2 separate regions of the Homo sapiens genome follow, and region 1 is reported to be linked to region 2. The links are microRNA targets in miRTarBase. Many come from high-throughput screens and were not tested one by one. Region 2 holds a microRNA gene; the other region holds the end of a gene's coding sequence.

The links. Region 2 holds the annotated microRNA hsa-miR-8073 (ACCUGGCAGCAGGGAGCGUCGU, at 1,829-1,850, shown strand). A microRNA usually pairs through its seed, bases 2 to 8, with sites in the 3' UTR of a target mRNA and lowers its output. Matches are read on the target gene's strand: a 7mer-m8 pairs with bases 2 to 8, a 7mer-A1 pairs with bases 2 to 7 and ends in A, and an 8mer does both.
Region 1: the mRNA of ZNF556 is a reported target of hsa-miR-8073. The part of its 3' UTR that is shown has no 7-base or 8-base seed match.

What each region holds. Positions count from the first base shown.
Region 1 is chr19:2,877,661-2,880,960 of GRCh38, forward strand. It overlaps ZNF556 (zinc finger protein 556), which reads left to right. Exons shown (of 4, transcript NM_024967.3): 4 at 1-3,300. The coding sequence ends at 669. Among named protein-coding and RNA genes, the nearest start is that of ZNF556, 12 kb to the left of the region's middle.
Region 2 is chr13:110,339,140-110,342,439 of GRCh38, forward strand. MIR8073 (microRNA 8073) reads left to right here and starts at 1,819; the gene lies at 1,819-1,890. All of the region lies in intron 3 of COL4A2 (collagen type IV alpha 2 chain), which reads left to right. RefSeq lists a silencer at 1,923-1,992 and an enhancer at 3,064-3,300.

The DNA.
Region 1 (3,300 bases), not on the chromosome of region 2:
CAGTGTGGGAAAGGCTTCAGTTGTCCCAAATCCTTTCGCGCACATGTGATGATGCACGCCGGAGGGAGACCGTATGAGTGCAAGCACTGTGGGAAAGCCTTCAGGTGTCAGAAATCCTTTCGAGTCCATATGATCATGCACGCCGGAGGGAGACCGTATGAGTGCAAGCAGTGTGGGAAAGCCTACTGCTGGGCAACATCCTTTCAACGACACGTGAGAATTCACAACGGGGAGAAACCCTATAAGTGTGGAAAATGCGGGAAAGCATTCGGTTGGCCCTCATCCTTACACAAACACGCGAGAACGCATGCTAAAAAGAAACCTGTGAGTGGGGGCAGCGTGGGAAAGTCTTCCGCGAGGCCTCGCCCCTCCACAGATGTCAAATCACAAACTAGAGAGAAAGTCTATAAATGTGAAACGTGTGGGAAAACGTATGGTTGGTCCTCATCTTTACACAAACATGAGAGAAAGCACACTGGGGAGAAACCTGTAAATGCAGCCAGTGTGGGAAAACCTTCAGGCGGGCTTTGCTCTTCCAAAAATGTAAGAACGCAGATTGGACAGAAGCCCAGTAAATGCGAAAAATGTGGGAAAGCTTTCAGTTGTCCCAAAGCCTTTCAAGGTCATGTGAGAAGTCACACAGGAAAGAAATCCTGTACATCTAAGTAATGGGGGAAAACCTGTGCAAATTAATTCACATACATGGTTCAGAAAATTCACAGCAGGAGGGCCGGGCGCAGTGGCTCACGCCTGTAATCCCAGCACTTTGGGAGGCCGAGGCAGGCGGATCACGAGGTCAGGAGATCAAGACCATCCTGGCTATGGTGAAACCCCGTCTCTACTAAAAAAAAAAAAAATACAAAAAATTAGCCGGGCGTGGTGGCGGGCACCTGTAGTCCCAGCTGCTCAGGAGGCTGAGGCAGGAGAACGGCGTGAACCCGGGAGGCGGAGCTTGCAGTGAGCCGAGATGGCACCACTGCACTCCAGCCTGGGTGACAGAGCGAGACTCCATCTCCAAAAAAAGAAAATTCATGGCAGGAGAAGAATCTCATGACGTTTATAAATATGGTATTGCCTTTATCAGGACCACATCCTAAAAGTGGGCCTCTAGCAAATGAATTTGCAGTTCTCTTGCAGGTAAAGTTGAGGGGAGAATCCTGTAAGTCCTCTCTCACCTATAGTACTGAAATTTTGATACATAATGGTTTTTTCTTATAAATTACTAATGTTTCTCTTTTCATTTAGAAGTGTATTGCACCCATGGGTGATCTGATGTATTTTAATATGCATTAACTTTAATTTTTATATATTTTTTTTGTTACTCCGTGTGAGGCCATTAGACCAATGAAATATGGGTGTTTGTTGACATTTTCTGACTGGCCCTGTGTGTTCCAAGCTGGATATTACTACCATGTTACTTTTATTCCACCTTTCCATTTTACAGGGAAAAACTATTTTTAATGTTAATACTTTCTACTTATACAGGCAAGTAATTCAGTGGCTTTATGCTATTGGTCAGAGAATCCTTCTTCATTTTGCTTGTGGACTAATAGGTAGTTGGTAGAAATACGTATGCATGCAAATTCTTGGAGGAGTGTAGTCTCGTGGGAACTATTTTTTTCATCTGTTGCTGTTTGCTCTTTGACCTGGCTTCTGGGTTGGAATTGGAAAATAGGTTTTTTTGGGTTTTTTTTCTTTTTCTTTTTTGAGACAGAGTCCTGTTATGTTGCCCAAGCTGGAGTGCAACGGCACGATCTCGGCTCACTGCAACTTCCGCCTCCCGGTTTCAAGCGATTCTCCTGCCTCAGCCTCCCAAGTAGCTGGGACTATAGGCATGCACCACCATGTCCAGCTAATTTTTGTATTTTTAGTAGAGACGGGGTTTCACCATGTTGGCCAGGGTGGTCTCAAACTCCTGAAATCTGCCCGCCTTGGCCTCCCAAAGTGCTGGGATTACAGGTGTGAGCCACTATGCCTGGCCATATTATCATTATCTTAATACCTCATTGTCTCAGTATTTCTTGTGCTTCTGTGTTCCTGCTTCCATGACAGATACAATGGTACAACCATAAAAACACAGGGGATTGCGGCTGGGCGCGGTGACTCACGCCTGTAATCCCAGCACTTTGGGAGGCTGAGGTGGGCGGATCACGAGGTCAGGAAATCGAGACCATCCTGGCTATCATGGTGAAACCCCGTCTCTACTAAAAATACAAAAAATTAGCCAGGTGTGGTGGCGGGCGCCTGTAGTCCCAGCTACTCGGGAGGCTGAGGCAGGAGGATGGCGTGAACCTGGGAGGCGAAGCTTGCAGTGAGCTGGAATCGTGCCACTGTACTCCAGCCTGGGCGAAAGAGCGAGACTCTGTCTCAAAAATAAATAAATAAAGAATAATTTTTTAAAAAAGCACAGGGGATTGTTTCCCTACTGCATCTACTGTGACCTAGTATTCTTCGTGAGATAAATCTTACCTTTCATGAGAAAATGAAAGACAATACTGGCTTATCAGGTAAACTCTGGAAATTTCCTGTCACATAGAGCTGAATACAATCTCTCAGTATGTGTTCAGTTATTATGTTTGATTATGTATTATTAAAACAAAAGTTTCTGTTTCTGAGAAATATCTATTTACTGTGTTTGTGTTTTTAAAGAAGTTGGATTCTATACAAATGGATAAAATGTTTCTTAGAAATAGCCTATTTAACTGAGTTTTTCAAATAAGTTGTATACTAACAAATGTCAATCTCTGTTTTTTATTTACTGGGAGAATGTATTAAAATATTGAAAATTGCCAAATCAACATGGTGACTTTAAAAATGATACTTCTGGGCCAGGCACAGTGGCTCACGCCTGTAATCCCAGCACTTTGGGGAGGCCAAGGCGGGCAGATCATGAGGTCAAGAGATCGAGACCATCCTGGCTAACACGGTGAAACCCCATCTCTACTAAAAATACAAAATATTAGTGGGGTGTGCTGGTAGGTGCCTGTAGTCCCAGCTACTCGGGAGGCTGAGGAAGGAGAATGGCTTGAACCTGGGAGGCGGAGCTTGCCAAGATTGCGACACTGCACTCCAGCCTGGGTGACAGAGCGAGACTCCGTCTCAAAAAAAAGAATTATACTTCTGAATTAATATTACCAGATGCATTCAGATTTAGACATTTTCTTTCTAGTACATTTGTTTCCTATACTGTTATAATTTTGTCTAAGAAATTCTTTTTTTTTTTTTTGAGACAGATTCTCGCTCTGTTACCCAGGCTGGAGTGCAGTGCCGTGATCTTGGCTCACTGCAACCCCCCCGCCA
Region 2 (3,300 bases):
AGAGATGAAGAGTGTGATTGAGCTCAGAGAAACTTCAGTGACTTGATTTTAAATGGGCCAAACAGTTGGATTTCTTTTACCTTTTGTGCAGAAAGCCTTCGTTTAGAGAAAAGAGGACTGAATTCTGATGGACAGTAGGTGTGGGAGGGGCAGCATGTTATCACAATAGCATCGTGATGAGATTCCTGGATGGAGGGAATCACTGGTGCTTGCATATTTGGGGCTTCATCTTAGGGAAGTTCCCTAAAATCTCTGTAGCACCCAGTTTTCGTGGGAAGAATGTCGTGGGAGCAGGGGCTTCCCTGACCTTGGAAGCCTGGCCGGTCAGTCTCAAACGAGTTTACTGCCTCCGACCCAATTGTGAGGACTGAGCCAGAGGGAGTGCATGTCAGCCTCAGCCTCCAGCAGCACAGCCCCTTTCTCTACAAGCCTCAGATATAGGGGAAAAAAAACAAAAACAGAGTCAAAAGTAGGTCTTCATTAATAAAAGACTGGGATCTCCCAGAATTAATCATCTTGCTCATCTTTTCCAGTTCTGGAAATCTGATCTTTGAACCTGGTATCCTCAGTCTTAGCACAATACCTGGGACCATAATAGATGCTCAGTAAACTTGGTGGGAGGAAAAAATCAAAGAAGGAGTCAAAATAGAGGTGCTCGGTGCCGAGGAGTTGCTAACCTGGACCATCCAAATAATGACAGTCTGTGGCACTTCAGAAGCATTCCAGAAATGGAACAATGGCACTCCATGAAGCTGTATAAACTCATAATGTATCCTGTAACTAACCCAGTATAGAACAGTAACACTGTTTACACTGATTGGAAGGAAGAAGGTTCATCCTGGCGGTTTATGACATTGCCAGAATGGCTTGAATCCTTGAGGGTGGGTGACAGGTAGAGTGGATAATAAATGGGCCTCCTGGTTCACAGAGCCTGAGAACCTCTCACCCAATGGGCACCTGGTGCCCCTGCAGAGTCCAGTCTAAGAGGACAATTTTTTTTTTCAGATGTAGTCTTGTTCTGTTGCCCAGGTTGGAGTGCCTGATCTCAGCTCACTGCAGCCTCCGCCTCCTGGGTTCAAGCAGTTCCCTGCCTCAGCCTCCCTGGTAGCTGAGATTATAGGTGCACGCCACCACACCCGGCTAATTTTTGTATTTTTAGTAGAGATGCGGTTTCACCATCTTGGCCAGGCTGGTGTTGACGTCCTGACCTCGTGAGCCACCGCGCCCAGCCAAGGACAATTTACTCTAGCCACAGATATGGCCATGGTCCTCATGTAAGCTGACTACAAATACAGCAAATCCACCTTTCCAAAGACTTCATTCTAAAGATGTAAAAGAACAAAAAGAGATAAAGGAAGAGGATGAGAAGACTTGAGAAGAGTGGAAGTGTAGAAAGAAAATGTTTAAGGTTCATCCCCTCCCCACCTTGGGGAGTTCCTTTGGCAGCATCTTCTGAAGGGTACTTCTCCTAGCCCAGGGGCAGAAAGATCCAGTCTTTTGGGGCAGCTGCGGAAGAAAGGAGAGCAGTCCTGTAGCTCATGAAGACATTACGAAGCACAAAGAACTGCACAGGGACAGAGAGTCTTTAGGGTCTCGAGCTCACTCTATGTCCTTGGCTGTTAAGTTCCCCGAGAGCAAACCCCAGCTTCTCGCTTGCTTCAGGCTCTGCATGTGTGAGTGTGACCCTTGGGTACTCTCGGGGCGTTTTCAGCCATGCGATTCTGGGGACTTCAGAGGACTCTGTTCCTTTCTGACTCGTGTTCCGGCGTCTGTGGATTGCTCCCAACAGGAGGAGGAGTATTGTCTATTAAGGGAAAAGATTTCAGTGACCTGGCAGCAGGGAGCGTCGTCAGTGTTTGACTGTTTATGGTATGTCAGGGAGCTGGTTCCTGGCAGTGGCTTCCCCAGGGGTGGGGAGGGGTGTGCTGGGGGTGACAGGAAGCACTGAATCACGACAGAGAAGGGAAAGAAGCCCGCCCGCCACTTCCGGTGTTCACTGAGCAGGTCGGTGGCCAGCGCTGCCTTCGCATCAGAACCCCATTTTAAAACACATCCAAGCGCGTGGCGTCATCGGGACGACGGGCTTCTCCCCAGTAGAGTGTCAGACCAACACCGCCCTGCACAAAGCTCTGTGTTCCCTGCTTTCTGTCATGTTCCCACCCATAGCCAGAAATCCCAGCTGCTGGCCGTCCAGCCCCTATGGAGCAGTGACTAAGGGTGGCTGTGGGACTCACTCACGAGCCTTAGGTTGGGTGTACATAGTTTGTGGCTGATTAGGTGTTGTTAAGGATTTACTGTTCAGGGCTGTTGATTTCTGCCACTGGCTTGTCTTCTCCCAAGGACAAGGGGCCTGCCTATTGGCTTTTAGATCTTAGCACTTAGCAGACTCTCAGAAGTGTTTGCTAGAGGACGTTTTCTGGGGAATGTCCACCTGCACTGATGAAAACAACTCAGTAACAACTCCACTTTGAGAGGAGCAGAGCAGGAGCCTTCCTTAGGTGTGCGTAAGGGGATACCGGCTTTAAAGACGCCAGGCTGAGTTGCTGTGTCAGGATTGATTCTTTACTTCTCCATCTGGAGGTGTTTCTGCTTTATCAGTTTCTCCTTGTTTCCAGCTCTGTCTCGCTGCCAGAGGGCCGACGTTTCCTGGCTTTTGTTGTACTGTGGCACACAGTCTGTTTTGAAAGGACAGGAGCATAATAAAAGCGGATATGAAAGAAGGGCCAGATGACATCACATAGAATACTGGAGGAAGTCCGCGTTTGTGGATGTTTATAATCTCAGCATGTTAGTTGTTTGTAATATGATAAGAGCACTTTTGATACATAGGAGGACTACAAGCCTTGTTGCTTAGACAGGACTCACGAATTTTTATCTTAGGCTCATAGTGACGAACAGAGAATGGGGATCTTGGCCTGGATCCCAAGTGACCCTGGCTCATTGGTTGACCTCGGGTACAAGATTCGGCATAGATGAGCCATTTAAATTGTGCCTAAGCCAGCTACTCATTGAATTTTTTAAAAGAAAGAGAGAGATAGAATAAAGAAAGCTAAGAATTTGACTTATTAGAGATGAATTAGCTTACTAAATTTTTTCCTTTTGAAATCTTACTTCAGAGAAATTGATGGTACCTAGAACTTAACATTAAATCAAGTAAGACCCTTTTAAGGTGAATTCTGGAAGCCATATAGAGTCAGCATTATATGCATGCTTACTCAGTGAAAATCCTAAAGCATGCAAGTGTCTCCATAAAGAGCAATCTCCTTGAACAATAACAGTGTTGACACCTGCTGTTCCCCA